Homo sapiens: one gene and its partners. The protein of the gene in region 1 purifies or fractionates together with the protein of each later gene. This does not show direct contact. Each region holds a gene or a part of one and is shown in the gene's direction. Other genes may lie near its edges.

Region 1 (5,365 bases):
TGTCATTGTCAGTTAAAAAAGCATAATTCAAAACCACACATTCACTGTGATTACAGCTAAATAAGAATTAGCATGCATGTAACACAAAGAGGGGAAAGGAATACAGAAGGAAAATAAAATCGATCTATCAGGGTAGTGGAATGATGGGAAGATTTTTCCACCTAAACTGTACATTTTATTACTTTCAGGGTTTAAAAAAAAGTATTCATAAAAAATGCTACTGCCTCAAGATAAAATATCAATTGATACAGAAAAGATGAGTTAAGATTTCAATCCAGAGGCTAGTGTCTGCCTAAGAGAGAACAAAACGAGCCTGTCATCTGTTCTCAGCCCATCATGTTTCCCATGTGTCCTTATACATTTTAATGATTAAAGAATGAAATAATGATTAGTGTGAATCTTGAATTTACATGAACTAATCCAGGGAAAGCAACCTCAGGAGGCATGGCATAGGTATTTTGTTCCAGAGAGCATTTTGAAAAATACCACCAAAGAAAAAGAAGATTGTATAGCAATTTTTTTCTTTTCTCCAGCCAGTTACTGTATTTTCATGTTATAATGAAATCAGATCTCATTTATGGTAGTGGGACCCTTTATATATATGTAGGTAAGGTAGCATGGTGTTAAAGGCCATTTCATATTTATCAAAATGATATCAAATCTACTGTTCCAAAATGATCTGGTTGCTTTGCACATTTAAACGTAAATGTTTAACATTTTCAATTTAGAGTGAGTCTCAGAAATTTCTGGATCCCATTATCAGAAATTAATATTAGTGCTATATTTCAATAAAATAAGTACAAATTAGGAGATTTTAGTTTGATCTTAGATTTTTTTTTTAACCTGGGAGATATGAAAAGAACTTGTATATGGTATAGCAAACATTTTTCAGCCTTGAATCAGAAAAAAACATTGCAGCAACCACAGGGAGAATTCATTATATTTTTAGGAATGTGTTTTTCCTTCTTTTCTTTGACGTGATTTGTATGATGTTGTTGAGTCTGGACTTTTTATAATGCTGGTCTCTCAATTAACTGAGATGAGAACTGATTTAGTAACGGTAAGCACCGTTGCCAAAGACCTGCTGGCAACAGCAATTTTCTCAGGCATTTCTATTTCCTGGGGTGGTAACTGTTACAAAAGAAGCTTTTTCAGACCAGGTTTGGACTGTGAGTTCAAGATGGAGAGCATCTCCTATAATTGCCTGTCTTGGCCTGGTATAGAGTGACTTTCTTTCAGAAGTTTGAGGTGGAAGATCCAGCTGGTTATGCTGAAAGTACTGTTGAGTGGATTCTAATTCCTTGGGAGGTCTTTCGAGTGCTTTTTCCTATAATAGTCCATTTCAGTGAATGAATAGATATTAGGCATTTGGCCCATTCTAGAATTCTAAAAGTTGGAAGGGTCCTTCAGTTACCTTTTTTTCTCATAGGAAAAACAAAATGTGACTGGGTTGAGTATTGAATAATGTTCTTTATGTTCTTATGCCTCTACTGGAAACAAGTGGGATTTTTCATTAGTTTGTTCACATTAGTATGTTAAGGCTTTCGGACACTCAGTACTAGTAATTCTGAAACAGAATCACAAAAGAATAATACTGCACAGTATCTTGGGGATGGGGGAAAAAGCTTGGTGCAATTTTCATATAGAGGATTTTACAATGTTCTACCCCCCCCCCGAAATTAACATTTAAGGGAAAGCCAAGTTTTCTTGCTAGCCAGATACATTGCAGGATTTTTGGGTAATTTTGTCCTTATTTTGGCAATTCCAATCGAAAGCTTGTTTTTCTTCTCCCTCTAATTTCATCTTTCAAGCTCTATACTACATAATGTTTTTTTAAAAGTAAAGGTTGTTTTCAGAAGTAAAAGCAGTCTCTCTTCTGTAGCTCAATAGTGGCATACCAGCCAGCTGGAGACAACAGTCACACCTTTGATGTCACAGCGATGTTCAAGTCTATTGGGATCTTCCTTGGAATCTTCAGTGGATCTTTTGCAATGGGTGCTGCTACTGGAGTGGTGACAGCTTTAATATCCTTTTGTTATATTTATCTTTTCTTGTTAACATAATATAGTAGTTGAATGCTGTATTCCGTTGTTTTTCCTAGTTCTATGATTAGAATTATGTTAGAATTATTAATCTTATAACTAAGTACTTGGTTTGAAAACATTAAGCAACAGTCTTTGCCAATAAATAAATAAAAGAACTGTATTGTTCTGCATAGGGTTTGGTGCCCTAAAACTTTCACTGCAAGTGTATAATTAGAGATGATATCTCTCTGAGGGTGAATTTTATAGTTGTAGATTAAATAGCTGTAAAGGTAGACATATTCCAAAGAGCCTCTGGGTGTTCTGTGTTGCTGGTCAGCCTGGCAGTCTTTTGCTCTTTGTTTAATAGGACAAATAGGAAATGTACAACAGCGACGCCGAATGAACAAAATGTGTTTCCTTGGTTAGGATATGTAAGAGTTCATCTCAGCTCTCCCGATTTTAAACTTTGTGCTCTAGAGCCCTGGACGGGAAGCCCAAAGGACCTGAGTTGTAGTCCTGGTACTACCACTTAGTCAAGTTATTCTTGTGTTCATGCAAAGGCCATTTTATCCCGGACTTCACCACCATGCAATATATCCATGTCATAAAACTGCACTTGTGCATCCTGAATCTATAAAAACAAATTTTATTTTTATTTATTTATTTGTTTTTTTGAGACGGAGTCTCACTCTTTCGCCCAGGCTGGAGTGCAATGGCACGATCTCGGCTCACTGCAACCTCCGCCTCCCGAGTTCAAGCGATTCCCCCGCCTCAGCCTCCCAAGTAGCTGGGATTACAGGTGCGCAACACCACACCCAGCAAGTTTTTTTATATTTTTAGTAGAGATGGGGTTTCATCATGTCGGCCAGGCTGATCTCGAACTCCTGACGTCAAGTGATCCACCCACCTCGGCCTCCCAAAGTGCTGGGATTACAGGCATGAGCCACCGTGCCCGGCCTAAAAACATGTTTTAAACCCCCCACCCAAAACAAAAAGCCAGAAGGCATGTCTGGATCACCTGCTACATGTGCTGTGCTCTGTGTATCAAAGCTAAAGAAGACAAACATGACCTCTGCCTCCCTGGTGCTTTCGATATAGTGGCAGACACAAACATGCTAGAAGCTTTGACACTTCACCTCTTTGGATCTCAGTGTAGGAAATTGGAGGGTGGGGACGGTAGGAAAGAGGAGTGGGACTAGATGATGTCTAAAGAGTTTCCAGCTCTGGCCTGGTGCAGTGGCTCGTGCCTGTAATCCTAGCACTTTGGGAGGCCATGGCGGGCGGATCACAAGGTCGGGAGATCGAGACCATCCTGGCCAACACGGTGAAACCCCGTCTCTACTAAAAATTCAAAAAATTAGCCGGGCATGGTGGTGGGCGCCTGTAGTCCCAGCTACTCGGGAGGCTGAAGCGGGAGAATGGCATGAACCCAGGAGGCGGAGCTTGCAGTGAGCCGAGATGGTGCCACTGCACTCCAGCCTGGGCGACAGTGCGAGACTCCGTCTCAAAAAAACAAAACAAAACAAAAAAGTTTCCAGCTCTAAAACTTCTATGATACTTGTATAAAACAGATACGTTATTCTTTGTCAAGGACTTCTTAGTTTGGTATACTTCAGCCTTGTGCTGGAAGAGGCTTCTTTTATGGCTTTTTATAAGTGAACTGAGGCATAAAGCAGCAGTAAAAAGAGTTCTGAAGGTGATGCCAAGAGTGATAGTATCTCTTCCCCATTACAAGTTCCTTGAGGGTAGAAAGTATATCTTGTTAATCATTTTGTTGTAGTGCCTAGTTGTAGAAATGACTCTAGATTCTAGCCTGAGATTGGTCGTAACTTGGCACAGGCCCTTCCACTGTCAGCTAACAAATACTTGTTAAACTAGTATAAAGCAGTGAAGTGCCTCAATTTCTTCATCATGGAATGAATGCTCTATATCATAGAAGTGGTAGAGGATCAAATTCGTGTAAAATCTCTTGGAAATTATGTATTTTTATAAATGTAAATTGCTACAATTATGGAAGCTGTCTAGCTTTGGGTCTCAGATTAATAGAGGTGGCATGTTATAGATCTGATCTGTTACTCCCGTCTCTATCTATCCTTTACTGCATGGTTTCTGGCAAGGTGTGTGATACCCGTGAAACAATTGGAGTGGCTAAGCCGTAAGGCTTCCTCACTGAAGGGAAGGCAGCTGACTCCTCAGTAAGATGCTCATTTTAAAAGTCTCCCTATTCTGGTGGTACCTTATTCTGAGATTTCTGTGTTAGAGAAGCTAGAGAACCTTTCTTTCATGGTTGCCTTGCTTAAACTGTTATTTTTTCTAGTCACACTTTTGTGTTACAAGATCTCATTACTAGCCTTAACAGTCTTACGTGACAAAGTTCACCAAATTACGGGAGTTCCAGTTGTTGGAGACAGGCCTGTTCTTCTTGATGTCCTGGAGTACCTTCCTCTTGGCTGAAGCATGGGGCTTCACAGGTAGGTGACTTGCTCCCTTTGATTGTCAACCCTTAAAAGGAGTGACTTTGCCAGTCAATTTTGCTCCAAGTGGATCAGCTCCGTTAGTATTTGAACATACTTATTGTGGTTGGGATTTAGGTTGTTGCTTTAGAACATAAAAAAAAATTTTCAGTGGAAGTGGTTCCTCTTAACAAAGTAAGTCACAAATGAGAATTTCCAGACAAAGCCTATAATCTACTGTGAAGAAAGAACCTCAGTATAAAAGGTGGGAACCATCCTTTTATGTGAACTTGGAATTTGTTGTCTTTATAGGTGTAGTTGCAGTATTGTTTTGTGGCATCACACAAGCACATTATACGTATAATAATTTGTCCACGGAGTCTCAGCATAGAACTAAACAGGTAAGAGGAACTTTATAGTTTGTGAATAGGCTTTTCCTTCTTTCAGCAAAATAGAAGTCTTTTTTACTAAAAAAAAAAAATAGTCTTTGATCTGTTCAAGATGCTATCTACTCATTTTGGCTCCTCTTCCTTTGACTCTAAAAGTAGGTGGGATTGGCAAAATGAAGAATGACAGCATTTAGGGTGGAAATAGATCAGCAGAATAGCCAGAGACTGTTACTATTGTGGCTTCAATAACCAGTGAAGTAGCTTCCCTTTTTCTCAGTGTTTTCCCAATTTAATGGCTTTTAAGGGGAATGTTTTGGAAGCTCACTCTGGTTTTACTTGAACTACTGCTGTGTGACGTAGATAAGGTTAACTTCTGATCTGACCAGACCTACTAAGAGATGACATAAAGAAAATTAACTTCTGATATTACTAGACCTTCTAAGACATGACATAGGTAAGATTAGCTTCTGATCTGATTAGACCTACTAAGAGAAGATAA
Region 2 (2,796 bases), on another chromosome or scaffold:
GGCACACCTTATCTCAGGAGAGCAGAGCAAATCATGAGCATCGAGCTCTCTGATTCTTAGCTCAGGTCCACGTCACCTTCTTTGCTTACTGTCTTTTTGGATACAGGGTCCTCTGTCAGGGCATGGGCTGGGGTCTCAGGGTCACAGAGAGGGTCTGGTGACTTGAGTCTGGGGGCTAACAAGATGTCCTGCCCACAGGTGGTACAACTGAAGGCTGTGTTCCCACACGGTGGAGGCTTTGTGCTGGCCTTTGAGTTCATGCTGTCGGATCTGGCCGAGGTGGTGCGCCATGCCCAGAGGCCACTAGCCCAGGCACAGGTCAAGAGCTACCTGCAGATGCTGCTCAAGGGTGTCGCCTTCTGCCATGCCAACAACATTGTACATCGGGTCAGTCTCAGCATAGGCCGGGCATGGGGTCTGGGGAGCTGACTTGGCTTGGGGATGGGGCTAGCCCTTGTAAAAGGTGTGATAAGAAGTTGGGACAGAGCTGGTCAAGGCCTCCAGGTAAGTGGCCAGGGCATGGCCCTGGAGGAGGTGGGGACCGGGGCTGACCTGAGTGGTTAGACTGCCAAGCCCGCTTGTCCCAAGGTCCTATGGGGGATTTGGAGGGACTGATGCTTCTTTTGGTACTCCCAGGACCTGAAACCTGCCAACCTGCTCATCAGCGCCTCAGGCCAGCTCAAGATAGCGGACTTTGGCCTGGCTCGAGTCTTTTCCCCAGACGGCAGCCGCCTCTACACACACCAGGTGGCCACCAGGTAGGGAGGGCCAGATCCCTTCCAGTCTTCTCCATGGGGAAGAGATGCTTCTGGGCCTTTTCTCCAGACATTGCTTGTGGGGCTGGGGTCACCTCCCCAGGCATCCTTTTCTCAGCCCAGTGCCTGCCAGCCCTCTTCCTCGCAGGTGGTACCGAGCCCCCGAGCTCCTGTATGGTGCCCGCCAGTATGACCAGGGCGTCGATCTGTGGTGAGACCCCTGTGGGTGGTCAAAGGGTAACATGGCTCATGGATTTCTGCTAGGCTCTGAGGTCTCTGAGCTGTTTGGTGGTCTTTTCCCTGGTGGGAGTTTAGGCTTCCTTAAGGGTGTCTTCCCTGGTTGGGGTATTCTGAGCACTTTGGGGTTGGGGTTCCTCACTATGATGTTTTCGAGCTGGGTAGGGGCCAGGTGGGATGAGAATGGTGGTCCCAGGTGGGAAGCTTTCTGGGCTAGATGGGGAGGTGGTCTGAGCCGATATGTGCTGGAGTTAGATCCTAGGATATGGCATCTCTGAGCTGGTCAGAGGCCTGTGTCCTTGGACATGAAAGCTCTGAGCTTGTTTTGCAGCAAGAAGATAGTTGGCAGTGCCCATGGGTCTGAGATTTGGGGCAGGTTTGCAGGTCTGCCCCAGAAGTGTCCTAGAGCAGGAGTCTCCGAGAAGTCTTGGAACAGCTGGGGCTTTGCTCTGGGTTCTAGGGTTGAGGGCTTTGAGGGTTCAGGGACTGGGCCTCTGGACGTGAGGCTCCAGGGCTGGCTTGTGGGGCCTTGCCCTGGAGTGCAGTGTTAGAGCTGCTCTGTGGGTGGGTCTGTGGTCCATGGTGGGAGATCTCTGACCTGCTTGGGGCTCTGTGTCCACAGGTCTGTGGGCTGCATCATGGGGGAGCTGTTGAATGGGTCCCCCCTTTTCCCGGGCAAGAACGATATTGAACAGCTTTGCTATGTGCTTCGCATCTTGGGCACCCCAAACCCTCAAGTCTGGCCGGTTTGTAGGGGCCCTTGGTGAGGTGGGTGTGGGGCAGGTTTACTCCACTCCCAACAGCAAGTAACCACTCCCTCCCCTGAACCTTCTCTCTCCTGGCCCCAACCCCCCTTGATGGACAGGGACCACTGTCCTGGCCCAACTCAGGGCTTCCTCCTTCCTGCTGTCATTTGGGTTGGGGTAGATCCTGTCCTTTGTCCCTTTTCACCCCAGTACACACATGTGCAGTGTCTCAGCAAGCTGTGCACAGAGTCGTCATCTGAGAGGGCAAGGGGATGGATGAAGGAATACAGGGGTGGGTGAGTGAATGAATGATGGGTCAGGGAGACACATGGATGGGAGAGCACCCCCCATGTGAGTGTGTGTTAGGGGCTGAGAGTTGACAGCAGAGAGCATGGCAAGGGTCGGGAACTACTCTCATTGTACCCTGTTCCTTCTCCCTGGCCCAGGAGCTCACTGAGCTGCCGGACTACAACAAGATCTCCTTTAAGGAGCAGGTGCCCATGCCCCTGGAGGAGGTGCTGCCTGACGTCTCTCCCCAGGCATTGGATCTGCTGGGTCAATTCCTTCTCTACCCTCCTCACCAGCGCATCGCAGCTTCCAAGGTAGGGGGAGAGGCTGTAGTCTCTGCTCCTTCAGCTCCCCTCCCCATCACCCTGGTACTCTGTACTTGGTAGCCATGTGACCCCATCACATCAGCGACCCTCAGAACCTGTGATTGGCATGGACCAGCACCAGACATCTGGAACCCAGGGGACAGGGGCCTTGGAGCAGGTGTGCCTCTCATGAGTAGACCCCACTGGACATCCCCAGACTTCCCCTGAGGGTGGCCCATACGAGGGGCATGCCCAACTCTCAGGAGAGCGCGTGTCCGGGAGTGCAGGTTTCTGGGCTGCCCCTGACCCTGTGGCAGATACAGTAAGAGAGTCACTGGGGACTCATTCCTTTATTCCATTAGCAAGTATTTTCTGCACATCTGGCACATGCAGGGATTGTCCTGGGCCCTGCACAGATGGTAAACAATCAGTCCTACCTCCGCGGGGCACTCCTGGTGGTGAGGT
Region 3 (3,500 bases), on another chromosome or scaffold:
ATGGTTTATTCGAAAGGGCTTATAAACATTTTCCTCTTGTATTTAAGTGTTTACTTAGAGATTGCTTAACTGCTTAAAGAAAGAAGCTAGAAAACTAATGTTGAGATTTTAGAAAATAATTTGAGGTGAATCATAAAGCAAATATAGAAAGTTTCTAAAATTGTAAAATTATGAAGTCAGTAGATATGATTTTATTTAAAAATTGGTTTGCATATGACTTTTTAGGAACAGTTATCATATGATGAAAAGTAAGCTTTACATTAACAAGTGCAGTAATTCTACAGGTAGTATCTATGATGGGAATGAAAAGAAAACCCCTGATTATCCAAGAATTGCATTTTAAACACAAATTGGATTTCCTTATAGAGGATCTTTTCTTCCTAATTGATATATCAGTGAAGATAGTTTTGGCTTTAAAATCGATATGATGTTTGGCATAGAATTTAAGGCATTAGCAGAAGAGTTACATTTTGCTCTTTGTTCAGCAAATATATATTGAGTATCTACAGTGTGTATCATTCTCGTTTAGACACTGGGAACACACCATGGACAGGACACAAAATCTTCACCCTCAGAGAACTTAGATTTCAGTAGATAACACAGACGATAAATAAATAGTTGTAGAAAAATTTAAGGTATCGCAATATGTTTGTCTATTTAAAATCAGTCTACTGTCTACCATTAATAAAGATATGATTATACTGGTAAACAGAAGTGGTTTGGGAATCACTGTTTGTAATTCTCATAAAGGGAAGGTGTTTACCTAATACTTGGATGCAGTTCAACCTTGTTAACACCAGAGGGTATTGTAGACTTCTGGAACAGCTCAATGATCCAAGAACTTCAAGGTGAAAACATATTATCTCAGGGTTATCTTTAACATTTCATGCTCTCTAACGACGGATGCAATTGTAAATTTCCCCGTATTTTTTCTTTTACTTAATAAATACAGAATAGTAGCAGAATAGGTTTCCTTTATTTTATAAATTATGAAATAACTTTACAAAATAGCAAATTGTAGCCATTTTAAATTATTATGCAGCAAGGTTCAGTTTTATTACTTACGCTAATAAAATTGGAAGCAATTATTATAGAGGAGAGATGGTAATAAAATTAGTCATTTTGAAGTAGAAAACAAGGCATGGAGTTTTTTTCATTTTAAATTTGTGCTTGATCCAAATTCTTTTTGAGTTCAATTCTATTTCTTCATCTCCTCCTCTAAAGGACTCTTACATGCAACTGAGTGAAGCCTATAGGGTTGAAAAGTATGACAGATACCTATCAGTTGCTGCAACTATAAAAATAGACTTCCCAAAGTATTTAATATCCTTTGTTCAGTAGGAATTTCTTGGGGCCATTAGAAGATATTTTCAGTAACTTGGGGAACTATTTCTTGTAAGTGGATTATCTAAACTGGTATCAACAGTGTTATTAATCCCCCCCCAGATTAGACTATTTAAGGCAATTTTATGTTTTTATTTAATGGAAAGTTGAATTTCACTATTAGGATTAATCTTATCATGATATTAATAAAGTAGGTATAATTAAAGGGATAATAATAGCTACCATTTTAAAGTAACTCTTAGTGCCAGGCATTATGCTAACTACATCTGTTGCCACTTTTAACTTATTTACCTTCTAATGGTTTCTATTTTAGAGTTTTAATAATGTAAAAATTTAAACATAGAGTAATTTTCTTGGGAATAGGCAAAATTATTAGAAATAATTCTAAATCTCTAATTACTGAAGCTACCCATGTAAGCAATTAAAAATGATGAATTTTCGATTTGGAAATACGGGGTGTTAAAAAAATTTAGTACTGCCTACTCTGTTCCTTTGTTTGACACCTTTACATTGTCTCCTCTATGAAACCTCACCTTACCCCCTCCTCACCATGTCAGTATATACTATGACCGGATTGTGCAGTAATAGCTTTCTGTTATTAGATTCACATATTAGTTTTGGTCAGTTTTAATTTTTGCTGACACAGAGTGTGCCCTTTTTAAATAAGTACATTCTGACTCTAGTTTCTGAATGGTTTATTTGTATTTATTTTATTTTCTGAGTTTTTACTGTGTGAAAAATGTTTCATCTCTATTCTATTCTTGTGAGATCTTAGATGCAAATTTTCTGTCTCATTTCCGTAGGACCGGATTTTAAAATTCTGTGCACAGACATTTTTGCTTTCTCCATTACATATGACCAAGGAAATTTATACAAGCTTAGGTATGTTTGTGAAAACATTTAAAAATGTTTTTTGTCATTTGCATGTACTTAAGAATGGATAGGAAATAATTTTTTTCAGAAAGCACTGTAAATGAATGATGTAATTTTATGTTTTCCCTTTTTTTTCAGCTAAGTATTTGGAGTCATACTTTCTTTCTAGGGAAAATCATATTCCTACTCTTTCAGCTGGTGTAGATATAACTAATCCTAATATGACTCGCTTACTTAAAAAGGTATCCATTTACTACAATATGCTTTCATTTTTATTTATTTAGTTTTATATTTGAGGATGCTAATTTTTTGAGAACTATTGTGCACTGCTTTGTAGGTTCGTCTTCTAAATGAATATCAGAAAGAAGCTCCATCTTTCTGGATTCGTCATCCAGAGAAGTAAGTCCCCTCCCAATGTATGCCAGCATAAAACCTAGCGGTGTTACTGCCCCATATACGTTTCAGACAGAAAGAGTAAAGACAGTCTTAATGGACTTACCTGATTGGGAAGGGATTAATAAAATTTTTATTTTTATTTTTCTTCAGCTTGTCATGTTTTATACTTAGCTATGTGAATTACTGTATACAGGTACCACTTTACATCATTTATCACAAGGTAAAAAAAATGTAGCATTAGTTTTTTTTTTTTTTTAATGTATCAGTGATTTGAAGGTCTGCGTTAGGTTCTTATTGGTCTTTGCTATTGCATTTTGGACAAGTTCCTTAAATATTCTTTAAACTTTTTCCTTTCAGCTCTAAAATTTATACTAAGTTGTAAGATAATCTGTGAGTCTGAAAAGGAAAGTTAAATTCACAGATCCAGTGTTGAAGTAGAAAGAACCTGTAGTTAAAGCAGAAACATTGAGTATGAATCCTACCTGTCATTTACTGAAATAGAAAAAATGTTTCTGAAGATTATATGCTACTTTATCATTCCATGAATATAAAGTATACCACCAGAACTATATGTGTAATTGTATTTCTTTTTTCCCAAACTTTAAGGTATATGGAAGAAATTGTGGAGAGTACTTTGTCCTTGTTAACAGTTAAACATAATCAAAGCCATGTTGTCTCACAAAAGATTTTGGATCCGATCTACTTTTTTGCATTAGTTGATACCAAGGCTGTGTGGTTCAAAAAGTGGATGGTAAGGAAAAATAGAATATTTTTATACCTTTTAGTGCATTGCTATATCATTTTAATAAATAGTTAATGTTTGAATACTGTGTGCTAAGAGTTCTAATCACTTTTACATGTGTTAGCTCATTTATTTCTTATAAAAC
Region 4 (3,500 bases), on another chromosome or scaffold:
CATAAGTGCAGACAGTGCTGACTCTCCCAGGAGTTTACTCGTGAGTAGGGGTGGCAGAGAAGCCATGTGTGTAAAAATGCAAGGTAGAAAGGGCTTTGTCTCACTGATCCTGAGGAGCAAGGTAATAATGTGGGCTAAGGAGATCGAGGTCAAGGAGGTGTCACCCAGGTGTGGCTTTGATGAATGGGGTGTGATTTGAAGATATGAACCAGGGCACAGGATAGGAGGCAGGAAAGACAACAGGCTGGGGAATAGCAGTGAGTTCCTTAGTTATGCTGGAGCTATGCTATCCAGTACGGTGGCCAGTAGCCCTATATGGCTATTTAAATTACAACTAAATCAAGTAAAAAATTTGCTTTCTTATTCCTACTGACCACACTTCAAGTACTCAAGTGGCTAAGTGGCTGCCGTATTAGACCATGTGGTGTCGGATATTTCCATCCTTGCAGAATGCCCTCTTGGCTGGTGCTGGGCTAGAGTGCTAGGGGGAGATCAGGGCAGACGGCAGAGCACCTTGAGTGCCTGCTAAGGGATCTGGACTTTATCCTGGCTAGGAAAGGTCCAGGCTAAGGAAAGAGCTGAGCAAGGAGGGACACCGTCAGAACTCTGGTCTCAGCATGTCACGCTGACAGTACGGAGCAGGTTGGATCTGTGGGAAGGGAGACTGGAGGAGGGTGACAGCGGGAGGCTGTTCAGGCAGGACATGCTGGCTGCTTGAACTAGGCCAGAGGCTGGAGAAGTTGCCGGTGGCTATGAGGACACTGCCCAGGTGCGACGGAAGAGGGTTTAGCATTACCTGGGAATGCAGAGGGAAGTGAGAGATGCTGGGCGCTTGGAAGAAGGGGGATGCCAGGGACAGAAGTCCAGAATATTCAGCCCAGGCCTGTGAGTCTGACGTCCAGGTGAGCTGCTAAGGAGTAGCCCTGCTGGCAGAGCCCCGGCCGCGCTGGGCCTGAGAGCCAGGCTGGCACTGTGGATGTGGCATCGCTCGTGAAGCCGCAGATTACCCAGAGCACTCTGGATTGGAGGTCCGTGCTCCATGGTGAGGCCTGCGTCTGCCTGGCTGCCATCCTCCCTGCACTGTGGATCCATGTGTGAGGGGAGACATGGCTGATGGGAGTGGGTTGCTCATGATAGTGTTATGTGAGCAAGGAACTAAAAAGTAGAGAAGAAACAGCTTAGTGAAGTAGCCCTCTGCGTTAGGGGAGACGGCAAATGTCCACACTTGAAGGGTTAGCGGAACCTCGCCTGGAGCCAGGCGTGCCCTTGAGTCCAGGCACACCAGGAAAGGTCTTTCCAAAACAACTGACCTGGGTGTGCTTTTATCCTGCCTCGTCCTCTCCCCTCAGCCTGGCTTTGGTCCCTCACCAATATCTCGGGTCAATTTTGCAGGTCCAAGATAGCCACTCTACCAGCTACCCATCCCTCCTCAGCCACCTGACCTCCATGTACCTGAACGCCCCGGCGCTCGCTCTGCCTGTAGCCAGGATGCAGCTCCCAGGCCCTGGTCTGCGCTCATTTCATCCTCTGGCTTCCTCACTGCCCTGTGACTTCCACCTGCTCAACCTACGTACGCTCCAGGCTGAGGTGAGTGTCCCTCAGCGTGACATGCTGAGAGCAGAGTTCTGATGGTGTCCCTCCCTGCTCAGCTCCTTCCTTAGCCTCCAGGATGAGGTCCAGACCCCTTAGCAGGTATTCGGCTCCAAACCTCCAGGACCAGGTTTTGGCCTTTCCTTACCCACACGCCTCCCTGTGCCAGCACTGCCTCTGGGCAGAGGCGCTGCTGCATCTCCGATCTCTGAAAGCCCTGCGCCCACTTCCCTGGGCACTGTCTGTCATCCAGGAGGACACCCTACCCTCGGCGGAGACCGCACTCATCTTACACCGCAAGGGTTTTGACTGCGGCCTGGAGGCCAAGAACTTGGGCTTCAACTGCACCACAAGCCAAGGCAAGGTGAGTAGGGTGGGGAAACAGAGCACCTAGGAATGGCAGGCATGAGCTTGGTAAGACTGGGCTGAGATTCGGTGACAGGCTGGGAGAAGAAAGTGTCACTCCAGGGCTTTCTGGAGAGAAGGGGGGAAGCTGTAGACATGTTTTCAGAGCTCCGGAGGCCTGGCAGGGGGAGTTCCAGACAAGGTAGATCGCTTGAGAACTTTTGTTCCCTGAGCAGGGACCTCTATCAAGCAAAGTGGAAAACACCAGAAATAGAAAACCAGAACCCATCCTGTTGTTACTTTGTAAGCTCATATCAGCCGGCACTGATAAATGTCCCCGGGTGCCAGGTCCTCTGCTGGGCTCCAGTGTTTCAGAAGTGAACCAAGACATGGTCACTGTTTTCACAGAGCTCACAGCTCAGTGGAACGGTTCTTACCCAGAGATCTGTAGGCAGGCTTTAGGGTTGAGCAAATCTCAGCAAGCCCGTGAGACTGGATGCACACTCATGTGTAAGAAGGCATGGTGTTGCTGAGAGGGGCCAGCCGGAACTGGAGTGCAGTGGCGTGATCGCAGCTCACTGCAACCCCCGCCTCCTGGTTCAAGTGATCCTCCTGCCTCAGCCTCCCGAGTAGCTGGGATTACAGGCGCCTGCCCCCACGCCCAGCTAATTTTTATATTGTTAGTAGAGACGGGGTTTCGCCATGTTGGCCAGGCTGGTCTCGAACTCCTGACCTCAGGTGATCCACCCGCCTTGGCCTCCCAAAGTGCTGGGATTACAGGTGTGAGCCACTGCCCCTGGCTGAGATTCTTAAAGAGGTACCAAATTGTAGATGAACAGCCACATTCTTTAGTGTCTCGGCACCTAGCACAACCCTGCCCCTTCTCTGCTCTCCACAGGTAGCCCTGGGCAGCCTTTTCCATGGCCTGGATGTGGTATTCCTTCAGCCAACCTCCTTGACGTTACTGTACCCTCTGGCCTCCCCGTCCAACAGCACTGACGTCTATTTGGAGCCCATGGAGATTGCTACCTTTCGCCTCCGCTTGGGTTAGGGCTTCTTGTGGCCTGAAGAGAAAGTTCATTCACAGAGACTGCCTCTTAACATGAAGATCATTGGACAAGCCACACGGGTATCCCATCCCGATCTGCCTCCCAGAACTGTGACACACTGGGCTCTGCCCTCATTTTCTGTTTATTGCTGCTGCTGTGTTTTCGGCGCAACCCACAAACCCAGTGATGGGTAAATAGGGCAGACGCCAGTGAGATCAGGGAGAGAAGGCCCTTGGTCAGAGTGGGCAGTGCCAGGCTCTGCTTTGGGTTGTGAGTGGACACCCAACTGGGCACAGGCTCAGGCACCCATCCTTTTTCCAAACAGGGATATAGAAGTGGTGGAAGCAGACAGAAGAGGTAAGGGAGGCTAAGTGGGTAACAGCCCAGCATCAGGGTCACTGTGGCAACAGCAGGCTCTAGGGGAATCCTGTGGTTATGTAGAGACTCCATGTCCTGGTGTGATGAGCAGGATCAGAGTGACTCTGGGAGGACAGGGGTGGGGACCCAGAGTTAGCA

Evidence for each region.
Region 2: the proteins of SLC9A6 (region 1) and CDK20 purify together in Homo sapiens (affinity purification with mass spectrometry; 3 studies listed by BioGRID and IntAct, with this or other methods). This does not show direct contact.
Region 3: the proteins of SLC9A6 (region 1) and TBC1D32 purify together in Homo sapiens (affinity purification with mass spectrometry; 3 studies listed by BioGRID and IntAct, with this or other methods). This does not show direct contact.
Region 4: the proteins of SLC9A6 (region 1) and MAN2A2 purify together in Homo sapiens (affinity purification with mass spectrometry; 2 studies listed by BioGRID and IntAct, with this or other methods). This does not show direct contact.

What each region holds. Positions count from the first base shown.
Region 1 is NC_000023.11:136,008,560-136,013,924, forward strand, and holds part of SLC9A6 (sodium/hydrogen exchanger 6), read left to right. Parts: intron 1-1,882; coding exon 1,883-2,024; intron 2,025-4,389; coding exon 4,390-4,495; intron 4,496-4,789; coding exon 4,790-4,878; intron 4,879-5,365. UniProt on the Homo sapiens protein: Endosomal Na(+), K(+)/H(+) antiporter. Mediates the electroneutral exchange of endosomal luminal H(+) for a cytosolic Na(+) or K(+).
Region 2 is NC_000009.12:87,968,738-87,971,533, reverse strand, and holds part of CDK20 (cyclin-dependent kinase 20), read left to right. Parts: intron 1-198; coding exon 199-387; intron 388-636; coding exon 637-758; intron 759-888; coding exon of another isoform or gene 889-903; coding exon 904-966; intron 967-1,614; coding exon 1,615-1,738; coding exon of another isoform or gene 1,739-1,759; exon of another isoform or gene 1,760-1,760; intron 1,761-2,184; coding exon 2,185-2,340; intron 2,341-2,666; exon of another isoform or gene 2,667-2,796. UniProt on the Homo sapiens protein: Required for high-level Shh responses in the developing neural tube.
Region 3 is NC_000006.12:121,303,481-121,306,980, reverse strand, and holds part of TBC1D32 (protein broad-minded), read left to right. Parts: intron 1-2,147; coding exon 2,148-2,226; intron 2,227-2,355; coding exon 2,356-2,459; intron 2,460-2,554; coding exon 2,555-2,616; intron 2,617-3,219; coding exon 3,220-3,364; intron 3,365-3,500.
Region 4 is NC_000015.10:90,916,802-90,920,301, forward strand, and holds part of MAN2A2 (alpha-mannosidase 2x), read left to right. Parts: intron 1-1,392; coding exon 1,393-1,587; intron 1,588-1,843; coding exon 1,844-1,954; intron 1,955-2,833; coding exon 2,834-2,986; 3' UTR 2,987-3,500.